3 linked regions of the Homo sapiens genome follow. The protein of the gene in region 1 interacts with the protein of each later gene in a pairwise test. Each region holds a gene or a part of one and is shown in the gene's direction. Other genes may lie near its edges. The genes, in order: ZSCAN1, ERCC3 and HOPX.

Region 1 (3,750 bases):
CCTCGTTTTATTTTATTCTAGGTATTTATATTTCCATGAAGCATCTGCTTTGTTTACTGGTGTTTGCCCCATGAACATGGGCTTCCAAGGGACTAAAGCCCTATCAGTCCCTCTCACTGATGTGCTCCCACCCCAGTGTCCAGAACAGTGCCTGGTACACATAGGCCCTCAATAAACAGCTGTCCAGCAGATGCTGGACCCCCTGGAGGTGGGTCCTCCTCTCTTTTCTTAGCTCACACTCTCCTGCTTCTTCTTCAGCAATGAGCAGCTTCAGCTATCCTGAGCTCAGTCCCAGAGCTGAGGACCCTCCTTGCATCATGATCTCACCCCCACCTGATTTCAGATACAAAACGAGTATCTGTGGAACCCTACTATTCTGGCACATGGTTACATTGTAGACATTAATATTAAAACTTATTTATATGAAATGTTCTTATGTAAGGTTTCGTTAAAGTATATGAAATATAGGACACATTGATACTAATTCCTTGTTTTTCTTTTTCTTTCTTTCTTTTTTTTTTTTTTTTTTTTTTTTTGAGACAGAGTCTCACTCTGTTGCCCAGGCAAGGCTGGAGTGCGTTGGCAGGTCTCGGCTCACTGCAACCTCGGCTTCCCCAGTTCCAGCGATTCTCCTACCTCAGCCTCCCGAGTAGCTGGGATTACAGGCACGCACCACCATGCCTGGCTAATTTTTGTATTTTTAGTAGAGACGGGGTTTCACCATGTTGGCCAGGCTGGTCTGAAACACCCGACCTCAGGTGATCCGCCTGCCTCGGCCTCCCGAGTTCTGGGATTACAGGCGTGAGCTATCGCGCCCGGCCTCCTTGTTTTTCTTGAGTTTACATATAACTGAGGTTTCTTTTTTCTTTCTTTTTTTTGGGGGTGGGGGGACGGAGTCTCGCTCTGTCACCCACGCTGGAAAACTGGAGTGCAATGGAGCAATCTCGGCTCACTGCAACCTCCGCCTCCCCGGTTCCAGTGATTCTCCTGTCTCAGCCTCCTGAGAAACTGGGATTACAGGCATGCGCCACCACGCCCAGGTAATTTTTGTATTTTTAGTAGAGACGGGGGTTTCACCATATTGGTCAGGCTGGTCTCGAACTCATGACCTCGTGATCCGCCTGCCTTGGCCTCCCAAAGTGCTGGGATTACAGGCGTGTCACCGCGCCCGGCCGACGTCCTGTATTTTTATTTGCTAAGAGTGGCGATCCTAGTCTGGGACATACTTGTACTAAACATATTTATATTAAAAACAATGTTTTAACATACTACTCTTGGACACTGTATAAAACGGTTGCGTGTCTGGAATGCCGTCGTTTTGCCCCGCGGCCCCATCGTACATGCGCATCCCCGCAGCCGCCACCGTCTCCACTTTCCGCAGCAGCGTCCCTGACGCTGCGCGACCCGTTGCCAAGGCGACTGGAACCGCGGCCCGAGGTAACTGGAGGGCACGGCGGGGGCGGGGCGCTCATCCCAGGCGGCTTCTGATTGGCCTCGGCCGCCTCGTGCGTCACAGCCCCGCCCCTGCCCGGGAGTCCCGCAGCGGTGACTTGTCACCGACGCCCGGCGTGATCCAGCGGACCAATGGCGGCCGCCCGCGGCGCGCAGGGTGCGGGGATGGGGTCCGCCCGCGGCGTTGGGCGCGCTCGCCAGCCCAGGGGTCGCCATGACCGAGTGGCCCAGGCCCGAGCGAAGCCCGCGCGCGGTGAGTCCGCCGCGGCCCATCCGTCCCTCCGCCCGCCAGAGCGTCCATCGGGACGCCCACCCGGGAGGGTCTCGGCGCCGCGTCGGCGGGAGCTGGCCCGGGATCGCGGTCCAGGGGCGCGCGTCGGGGGAGGCGGGCCCGGGCCCGGGAGGGGGCGGGCCGGGCCGGGGTTCCAGAGCCCATCGGGAGTCCTGAGGTCGCCGTAGGGGAGGGAAGGGGAAGGCTAGAGGCCACGCGGGGCGGGGACTGGGGGGGCTGGGGCCGCCCCTTCCGCAGGGACCCCGACCCCTGTTGGCATCCGCCTGTCCGTTTGAGGCCGAAGCCCCTCTACGTACCCCCATTGCCCGCCCAAACACCGCTCGGCCGCGTCCAAGTTCTCCCTTCCACACCTGATCAGCATCCCGGGACCTATCTCCCTCCTGAACAGCCGCCCCCGGACCCATCTCCCTCCCTACCCGGCCCCTTGGGCCCATCCCCCACTGGAACAGCAGCCCCCGACCCGTCTCTCTCCCTACAAGCTCCCCCTCCCCGCCCCAGGCCCATCTCCCTCCTGAACAGCCGCCCCCGACCCATCCCCCACCCAATCACCCCACCATCCTCCCCCCAACCAGCCGTCCACAGCCGTCGTCGCTGCCCCTCCCCTGTATTCCCAGTGCGCTGCCCTTGCACACTTCCCCAGCTCGTTTATTATGGAACTCCTCCGTGTGGCATCCTAAGCTCCCAACGCCCTCCCCACTGTAAGCCCCCTTCTCAAAGCCAGAACCATTCACTGACTGGCGCAGTGAACACGTCTTCTATGTCACTAAGCATCCGGCATCAGCGGCAAAGCCCTTCTGCCCATCCCCGCAATAGAATTTGGGGCTCGGGCTGCAGATCTCAGTGCCCATGCCAGGTGAACCTGGCCCTTCCACAGGCACTGAGCCCTCCAAGTGACACTCTCTCACACACACACATCCCCAACATTAATCAGAGACCCCTACCAAAGTAGACTTCTAGGACCCCAGGGCCACCACAGCATTGCCCATGGGGGGGCCCAGATCCTCCTCACCAGCCATGTAGACCTCAGTCCCCTTCACATCATCCCAGGCCCTCTTCATCTTCCAGAAACAGCCACCCATCAGTCCAGGACTCTCATCAGCTCAGGTACCCCCACATTGGCCTAGGTGTTCCACATCAGCCCCCATATAGACCCCAGACACACCCATGGACCTCTGGTGCCTTCTGCTAAGACCTCCTCTTTACCCTCATCCCTGATAAACTTAGCATCTCCTCCCACAGACCTCAGCCCAGGACCCTGGAGGATGCTGAGGGGCTACAGCCCCCCTCCCTAGAGTCTCCAGGGTGAGCTGCCATGAGCACCTGAGAGAGTATAAGGTCTGAGGCCCCAGGGCAAAGGGATTTCTTGAACCTGTGGAGCTTCAAAATAGGCCCTTTTTTCTTATTCAAAACTACATATATAAAAGTGTGAATACAACATAAGAGAGCATTTTTGCCTGTGGCCTTGGCAGGGAAGACCAAGCTGGTAGTTTCCCAATCAGGGTGCAGGTGGCCGGGTACGCTGACTCGAAGATGGCTGGCTGGGCACAGTCCCCGTGAGTTGCCTTTCTGCCACCCTGCACCTCTCCTTTCTCCTGGATTGTAAAACCAGATGCACGAGAACTGCAGAGTGTATGAAAAATGCAGCAGAGGATGAAGAGGGAAAAATCCCATGGAATCCCTCCTTTTCACTTGTCATAAGCATTTCCCATATGGTCAAAAATCCTTCCTAAAGATGTCTTGTTTTGTTTTGTTTTTCCATGTTGATGAAGGTCACATGGGAGCCCGACACCATTTGGAGGAGATTCAGAGAAGTATGAACAGCACAAAGCACTTGGCCGCCCCCCATGGGCGTCTTCCCAGGACTCCCTTTCTATGACACTCACGCATCATCCTGCATCCCACGTTCCCTGTGCCTCATGTCATCTGTACATCATGTGTCTACTCCCCGTGGTCATGTCATAGTGTTGTGTACTGGGCACGGTTGAATACTCCCATCACATGATGGG
Region 2 (3,650 bases), on another chromosome or scaffold:
ATAGACTGAAGGAAGCAAGACAGAAGCGGTGAGGTGAGTTTGTGGAATCCCAGTAAGGATGAAGGCGTGATCCGACTCTGGATATGTTGTGAAGCTTTAATTGACAGGTCAGGTGTGGAATCAGAGAGAAATCAAGAATGACACTAAGGTTTTTGGCTTGAACAAAGGGAGGATACAGTGGGCATTAATTGAGATGGGGAACACTCTCAAAGGAGCTGGTCTGGAAGGTGACTATCAGGAGTTGGGCTTTAGATGTGTGAATTTGAGTTTCCTGTTAGGCATTCAGGCCATGGCAAAAAGGTTAAGAAATAGGCCAAAGAAATTGATAGACATTTCACCAAAAAAGGATATACATATGTCAAAAAAGCACTTGAAAAAGGGTTCAACCTCATTAGTCATCAGGGAACTGCAGATTTAAACCCACCACAGGATGCTCCCATATGCCAGTTAGAAGGGCCAAAATAAAAAATACTGATGTGCGGGTGCTGATGAGGTCACAGCAACTGAACTGTCACACATTCCTGGAGGGATGGATTGCAAAGTGTATGGTCACTGTGGAAAACAGTTTGTCCATTTATTATGAAATTACCACATGACCCATCAGTCCCATTCCTGTGTATCCTGGATACATGAAAAGAGGTTTACACAAAATCCTGTACACGAATGTTTATGGCAGCTCTGTTCATAATATCCAAAACCCAGGTGCTCATCAGTGGGTGTCTGGATAAACAAGCTGTGGTACATCCATACACTGGAACACTACTCAGTAGTGAAAAAGAACAAACTTGCTGCATGTTGCAACCTGGATGAATCTCAAAAGCATGGTGCTGAGTGAAAGAAGTCAGCCTCAAAAGCTTCCATAGTATGTGATTTCATTTATACAACGACAGTATAGTGCTGGCCAGCAGATCAGTGGTTGCCAGAAGTGGGGGGTCAGAGATGGATGACTCTAAAGGAGAGCACAGGGGAATTTTGGGGGATGCTGTCTTTATCTGTACCCTGATTGTGGTGCTGGTTACAAAAATGTAAATATGTTAAAATGCATAGAAGTGCCCCCCCCACCCCCCGCCCCAAGTCAGTTTTACTGTGAGAATTTAAAAACTCAAAAGAAAAAAGGTGGAAGGGTGGGTATTGGGTCTGCTAGGATTGAAAATTGATGGTACAGAGAATCACTACCCACAAAGGAGTCTGGAATTGTTCTGTAGCAGTTTGGTTGGAAGCTGTGTTCAGGGCTTGAGGCATTCTGTCTGACTATATGTTTGGTACACGTTCATGTTTTTCTTTAACCCAAGCCCCAGGTCCCAGGTTCCAGGGGACAACAGCACAGATTTGGGATTGGTTATCTGATGAACAAGTACAAAAAGGTGCATCTCACACTCACATATGTCTGTGAGTTTGTCTGTCTCTCGTCTAGTTCACTGGATGAGTTAGTCTTTGGTTGAGTTGCGGAGTGAAACCAACAAACTCTAAGGGATTTTTGAGTACAGGCCCCATAAGCCCAGTGGCCTGGCCATGCTCATTGTCCCAGAGAGCAAATGTTAAATAAGGGAATGCTAGGAAGTCACAGTAAGTCTCCTGACTGTCTTAACGTCTGCTGTGTTGGGTTAGGTGGAGTGATCAATCTTTGAGATTTATCTCAAAGGATAAAGATTGCTGTGCTGTTTTACAGATTTTTCAAAAGGAGCTCTGTTATGCCTTTTTATTAATGATTCATATTATGGTACTTGTGTATATTAAGTGCTTCCTGTGTGCTAGGTACTGTGCCAGTTTCATTATTTCTACAGGTATTTATTGAGAACCTACTAAGTTTAGGCACTGTACTTGGCACTGGAGACAAAGTGGAAGGGACAGCCAAGTAACCACACAAATAAATGCCAAATGACAACCATGACATAATGTTGAGTGATACAAGCCACACACAAAAGTGCATACTATGATTTCATTCATGCAAAGTTCAGAAAGGAGGCAGACCCCTCTCAGAAGTCAGAGGAGTGTTTCCCTCAAGGAAGAGTGCTAGTTATTGACAGAAGGGGTCAGGGGAGAGACCTCTGGGTGCCTGGTTCTCTATATCCTGATCTAGGTGGTTCCACAGCTGCATGTCTGTAAAAATATATTGAGTAGTATGCTGTGAGTTATTCACCTGTGACAGCTGTCAGGGCTGTAGGAGAGTGTAATAGAGGGGTGTGATGGGGTCACGGGTGTCCAGGCAGAGTCCTACCTGCCTTATCCTTGTCTTGGGTCAGTATGTCCCCCAGTGTTGCCTCTCTGGGGCCCACACTGGGTTGGTGTAGCCATTGCCTTGACTACCATTTCCCTCTAACATGGGGAGCTTGGTCTGAGGTTCTTGGCTACTGTATTTTGGAGCCAGCACAGTCTTTCCTTAGACATAACCCTGAGCTGATTTTGTTTTCTGTGTTGTGTGTGTGTGTGTGTGTTTGTGTGTGTGTGTTTGCATGTGGTGTTGTGTGCAAACCATGTAGATGTAAAAACTAAACATTTACTTAGAGTTAGGCAACCCTATGTTATTTCACTGTGAACGTCTTTGTGTTTTGGTGCATTCAGGCCTCTTTTTCCTTAGATTTTTGTGTCTATTTATTTCTGAAATATCATTAGCCCTACTTTCAATTATATTGTAAGATAAGCATGACTCAAACATTTTAACCTTGCTTCAGAGTATTAGAATTTTTAAAAGGTGAGCCCGTGGAAATCCATAAATTAGGTTTTTTAAAAATGAATAACTCATACCCTTTATGTGTTTATTTTATTTGATAAACCAGAGAGAATTATAATGTTCAAAAGAAAGGAAGAAAAAGAGGTTGCTGGTTGACCAAAGTGATTGAATTGGTAAAGTTTGGAGAGGGGAGTTTCCTAAGGCGGGCCGGAGGGCTTGGGCGAACAGTTCCTGGAGTTTCATCACTCCCGTGGGCTTGGCTTTCTTCTCGGTTTCTGGGAAAATGATGGGAAGCTGAGAAGAGCTGGCTTCTTTCATTTCTTCCTCTCCCTAGATTGTCAACTTTCTTTTCAGTAACCTGGGTACAAGTGTTAGGGGAAAATTCTTTGCGTAATTTAGAGCTTAATGGTATTAATAGTAAGTATTGCAGGTTGTATTTCAAATTGCCATCTGTACTTCTACTGATAACTGTTGTGAGGGGAATGCTGGGATTCATTAACTTGGAGATTCCTTAAGCTCATTTCACCCTCTTGTTCTCCTTTTCATTTTCTTTTGGACAGGTCTAAAAGTGATGGTGAAGCATTTGCCTAGTCATTCTTGTCTAGAGCCAGCTTCTGTGGTCCTGAAACCCAAGGGTTAGTTCAGGTGGTGTCATAAGCCAGTGTTAAGTTGCACAGCTATGAGCATTTGAAAAAGTGACAGTGTAGGCTGGGTGCAGTGGGTCACGTCTGTAATCCCAGCACTTTGGGAGGCGAAGGCAGGGGGATTGCTTGAGGCCAGGAGTTCAAGACCAGCCTGGGCAATATAATGAGACCCCATCTCTACAAAAAATATTTTAAAATAAATAAATAAAAAATAAGAAAGAAAAGTGACAGTGTGAATGCTCCCATTGTTTCCTCAGCCAAGATGTTCCGAAGGGTGCTCACCATCGTGCAGGCCCACTGTAAGCTGGGTTTGACTGCGACCCTCGTCCGCGAAG
Region 3 (3,650 bases), on another chromosome or scaffold:
CTGCACCTCTCAGGCAGTCCTCCCATTTCCCCCCTTCTGCCATTCTCAAATAAACAAGTGGTAGACCCAGCCCCAAAATGAGTGGATGTGGGGTGAGTCAGCCTCTTAGCAGGGCCCCTGGCTTCCTCTTCCTGCCACAGGACCAACACCTTCTTCCTCCCTATGGCTACCACAGCTTGGCTTGCCCCTCTGTCTTCCTGCCTTGACCTGCAGGGAAGCATCTGGAACCCCAGAGCTTAGAGACAGGCAGCACTTAGCAAGCTCAGAGAAAGAGACTTCCTAGGAACCACAGGCTGTCTGCTTGCCCTTACTGGATTGGGTGTCATCTTTCAATTTCCCATTCTTTCCCCTCTCACCCCACTACCCCCATGGGTACTGGTGAATGAGAATGATTTCTTCTTTCATCTTCTCAAACAACATTTATATTTTTAAAGAGTATCTCCTATGAAAAAGAAAGTGTCTGGCTGGGCACAGTAGCTCACACCTGTAATCCCAGCACTTTGAGAGGCTGAGGCAGGAAGATTGCTTGAGGCTAGGAGTTTCAGACCAGCCTGGGCAACATGGCAAGACGCTGCCCATCTCTACAAAAAATAAAAAATAAAAAAGTAAAAAAATCAAACAGGTGTGCTGGTGCATGCCTGTAGTCCCAGCTACTCTGAAGGCTAAGGCAAGAGAATCCCTTGAGCCCAGAAGTTCAAGGCTGCAGTGAGCTATGATCATGCCACTGCACCACCTAGCCTGGGTTACAGAGGGAGAACCTGTCTCAAAATAAGTAAGTAAATAAAAATAAAAATATTACAAAAAGAAAGTGTCTTCTGGAGACATATGCCCAATGATGAACTTTCCGTCATTAAAATTATTTTTGTTTATAGCAGGTCTTGAGGACCCTTTAAATAACTCCATGGAGGCTAGGACCTGCTGGGCCTACATATAAGTAATGTCTGGTATTGACACTTCCCCAGTTTCTTTTTCTTTCTTTCTTTCTTTTTTTCTCTTTTGGAGAGAGTGTCTCACTCTGTCATTCAGGCTGGAGTACAGTGGCACGACTATGGCTCACCTCATCCTTGGCCTCCCAGCCTCAGGCAATCCTTCTACCTCAGCCTCCCAAGTAGCTGGGATATAGGCATATACTACCACATCTGGCTAATTTTTAAGCTAATTTTTAAATTGTTTGTAGAGATGGGGGTCTCACTATGTTGCCTGAGCTGGTTTTGAACTCTTGGTCTCAAGCAATCCTCTTGCCTTGGCCTCCCAAAGTGCTGGGATTACAAGCATGAGCCATCGCAGCCAGCCTCCCCTATCTCTGTTCTTACTAGTGTTGCTCCTTTCCATGGGAAAGGGTCACTAAAGCCAAACTAACATTTGTTTCATGTGCCTGAGTCCTCATCCCACCCCAACACCACCCACCTCCAGAAATGGAATCATATTCTTAACTTCCCTAGAACAAGTAATACTTCAGTACCACAAAAAGAAGCCTGAGCTGCCCAGTGCTCTTGCAAGATAGTTACCAGAACTGATTCACAGGGCCGATACTTGGGGCAGGGACAAGCGGGACTAAGAAGTTGAAACATTCTCTGTCTTGGGAGATTTGCTGGCCTCTTTATAATTGTCCCACTTCAGGACAAAATTCTCTGTGGGGGTGGAGGTGGCACCCATAAGAACTCAAAGTAAAGTGAAGGGTGCTGTAATTGAAATAACTTTCTAAGTTGCATTTACTGGGATGTTAGAATGGGTTTTTCTCAATACAGTAATCTAAATATCTCCTAGATTTAAATTAGATGAAAACTTACAGAATCCCAGCCCTATGTCTTTTATTTTGAAGTCAGTTTTAGAAGAGGCTGGGAAATCTCCTTCCTCAGCCCCGTGGGAGGTTGGGATGATCTGGTGTTTTCTATTATTTCAAACACACACACACACACACACACACACACACACACACACACACTCTCTCTCTCTCTCTTTCTCTCTCTCCCTTTCTCTTCAATTCAAGCACAATGTAACTGGAATTGGTTCTTAGGGAGGTCTCCAAGTATTTTTATCTCCTCTTGATGTCCTGAGCTTGTTCCCAGAACCCAGTGGTTTTAGTCACTGGATGTTTTATCGGTGGAATAAAGACCTCTAAAGGTCTCTTCCTGAAAAGAATGAAATGTTAGTTACTAGAGAAAAGGACAGGAACAATGTTCCTTTGCCCCAGCCCCTACCCATCACAGTGTCTAATTATCATCTGTTTATTCAGAGTAAATAAATCTCCATCAATGGGCAAGGGTAATGAGGGCATTCATTTATAAGCAAGCAAGGGATGAATGTCTTTCCCAGTGGATGACTGAAACAAAGAAGAGAAGGATAAAGCCAGGTGGAAAATTAGCACTGATGTGCATGAGATTGATAAGATACAGCTCTAAAGGGAAAAAAGCAAGCAAGGTATTTAATGATTTCTGTTGGATTGCAACTGGTTTTGCTAAATTATTATATATATACTTGATTTAAAATACGCATCTTCAAAAAACAGTTGAGCTTTTCTTGACCTCCTCCCATCCCCCAATGTTAGGGCTCAGTTTGTTAAGCATTTGGGTACCAACTCACAAAACCACAAATGTGGTCCCTGCTGAAGTTATTTTCAGTAACAGTCCATCAATATTCTGCTTCATTACATAGTGTAAAGATGTGGGTGGCTCTTTTAAATGAGACCAGCTCAACCATTTTTTCTTAAATGAAATCTGATAGAAAGTGAGATTTTCCTCCTCCAGATTTTAATTAGTCAGTCTTTACAATGCTGCCATTTCTTCAGCTGTAGTAACTGGAAATCCTATTTAATCAGACCTTGCATCCTTGAAACCCCCCACAGAGCTACCTCATTAATGAAACTGGAACCTTGCTGCTCTCATACCAGAATCCAGAGTTAACTAAACACACGCACACAGGTTACAGAAGAAAATGGGCCCACCCTTAGCAGTAGAATTTCGATTGAAGCTGCCAAAGTTACATGAGTTCTCTCTTCTCATGAAGGGTAGTGATTTGATCTCCAGGAGCAAAATATGGCACCCAGAAAGTAGCCCCCAAAGAGAAGGCTACCCCCATGATAGTCTGCCGTGCTTGGCTTTCGATTACTTTTCTCTACTGCCGCCCCAGTGTAAAGGTATGTAAGATCTTGACAACTGTGTAAAGGATTTCAGTGTGTAAACTCTGCTGTACAGGTGGGTGAGGTGTAGGTGTGTTCCCATGCTATTCAGCCTGCTTAGCATTGATGTGGAGCCCAAAGCAGTCCTGCAGAGCCTTACCCCCATTCAAGCTCAACAGCCTCTCCTCTAGGCCTTGCTCCTTCTCCCCCTGTGATTCTCACACTTTCTTCTGATCTTGGGCTTATATACTGAATTCCCTTTCAGCTTCCTAGAGCCCATCCTGTTCATTCTGAGTATCTGTATAGGCATCAAGCCATGCTATGTGGGGAGCCCTCTAGAGGTTTCTCACCATCCCATCTCCATCAGCACATCCCAGATCTGGCATCTCACAGCTGTGCTCTTTCTGCTTCCTTCCTGTTCCTCGTCCCCTTACCCCTAGAACAGGTGAATTATAGAAATACCAGAAGGGACAGTAGAAACCCCCTAAGCTTACGTTTTTATTTACAGATGATTGGTGCTCTATTTTTAGGG

Evidence for each region.
Region 2: the proteins of ZSCAN1 (region 1) and ERCC3 interact in a two-hybrid assay, tested with the Homo sapiens proteins (one large-scale study listed by BioGRID and IntAct).
Region 3: the proteins of ZSCAN1 (region 1) and HOPX interact in a two-hybrid assay, tested with the Homo sapiens proteins (one large-scale study listed by BioGRID and IntAct).

Annotation. Positions count from the first base shown.
Region 1 is NC_000019.10:58,032,457-58,036,206, forward strand, and holds the start of ZSCAN1 (zinc finger and SCAN domain-containing protein 1), read left to right. Parts: upstream 1-1,568; 5' UTR 1,569-1,705; intron 1,706-2,286; exon of another isoform or gene 2,287-3,513; 5' UTR 3,514-3,555; exon of another isoform or gene 3,556-3,750. UniProt on the Homo sapiens protein: May be involved in transcriptional regulation.
Region 2 is NC_000002.12:127,280,554-127,284,203, reverse strand, and holds part of ERCC3 (general transcription and DNA repair factor IIH helicase/translocase subunit XPB), read left to right. Parts: intron 1-3,572; coding exon 3,573-3,650. UniProt on the Homo sapiens protein: ATP-dependent 3'-5' DNA helicase/translocase. Binds dsDNA rather than ssDNA, unzipping it in a translocase rather than classical helicase activity. Component of the general transcription and DNA repair factor IIH (TFIIH) core complex.
Region 3 is NC_000004.12:56,650,169-56,653,818, reverse strand, and holds part of HOPX (homeodomain-only protein), read left to right. Parts: intron 1-3,006; coding exon of another isoform or gene 3,007-3,136; intron 3,137-3,650. UniProt on the Homo sapiens protein: Atypical homeodomain protein which does not bind DNA and is required to modulate cardiac growth and development. Acts via its interaction with SRF, thereby modulating the expression of SRF-dependent cardiac-specific genes and cardiac development.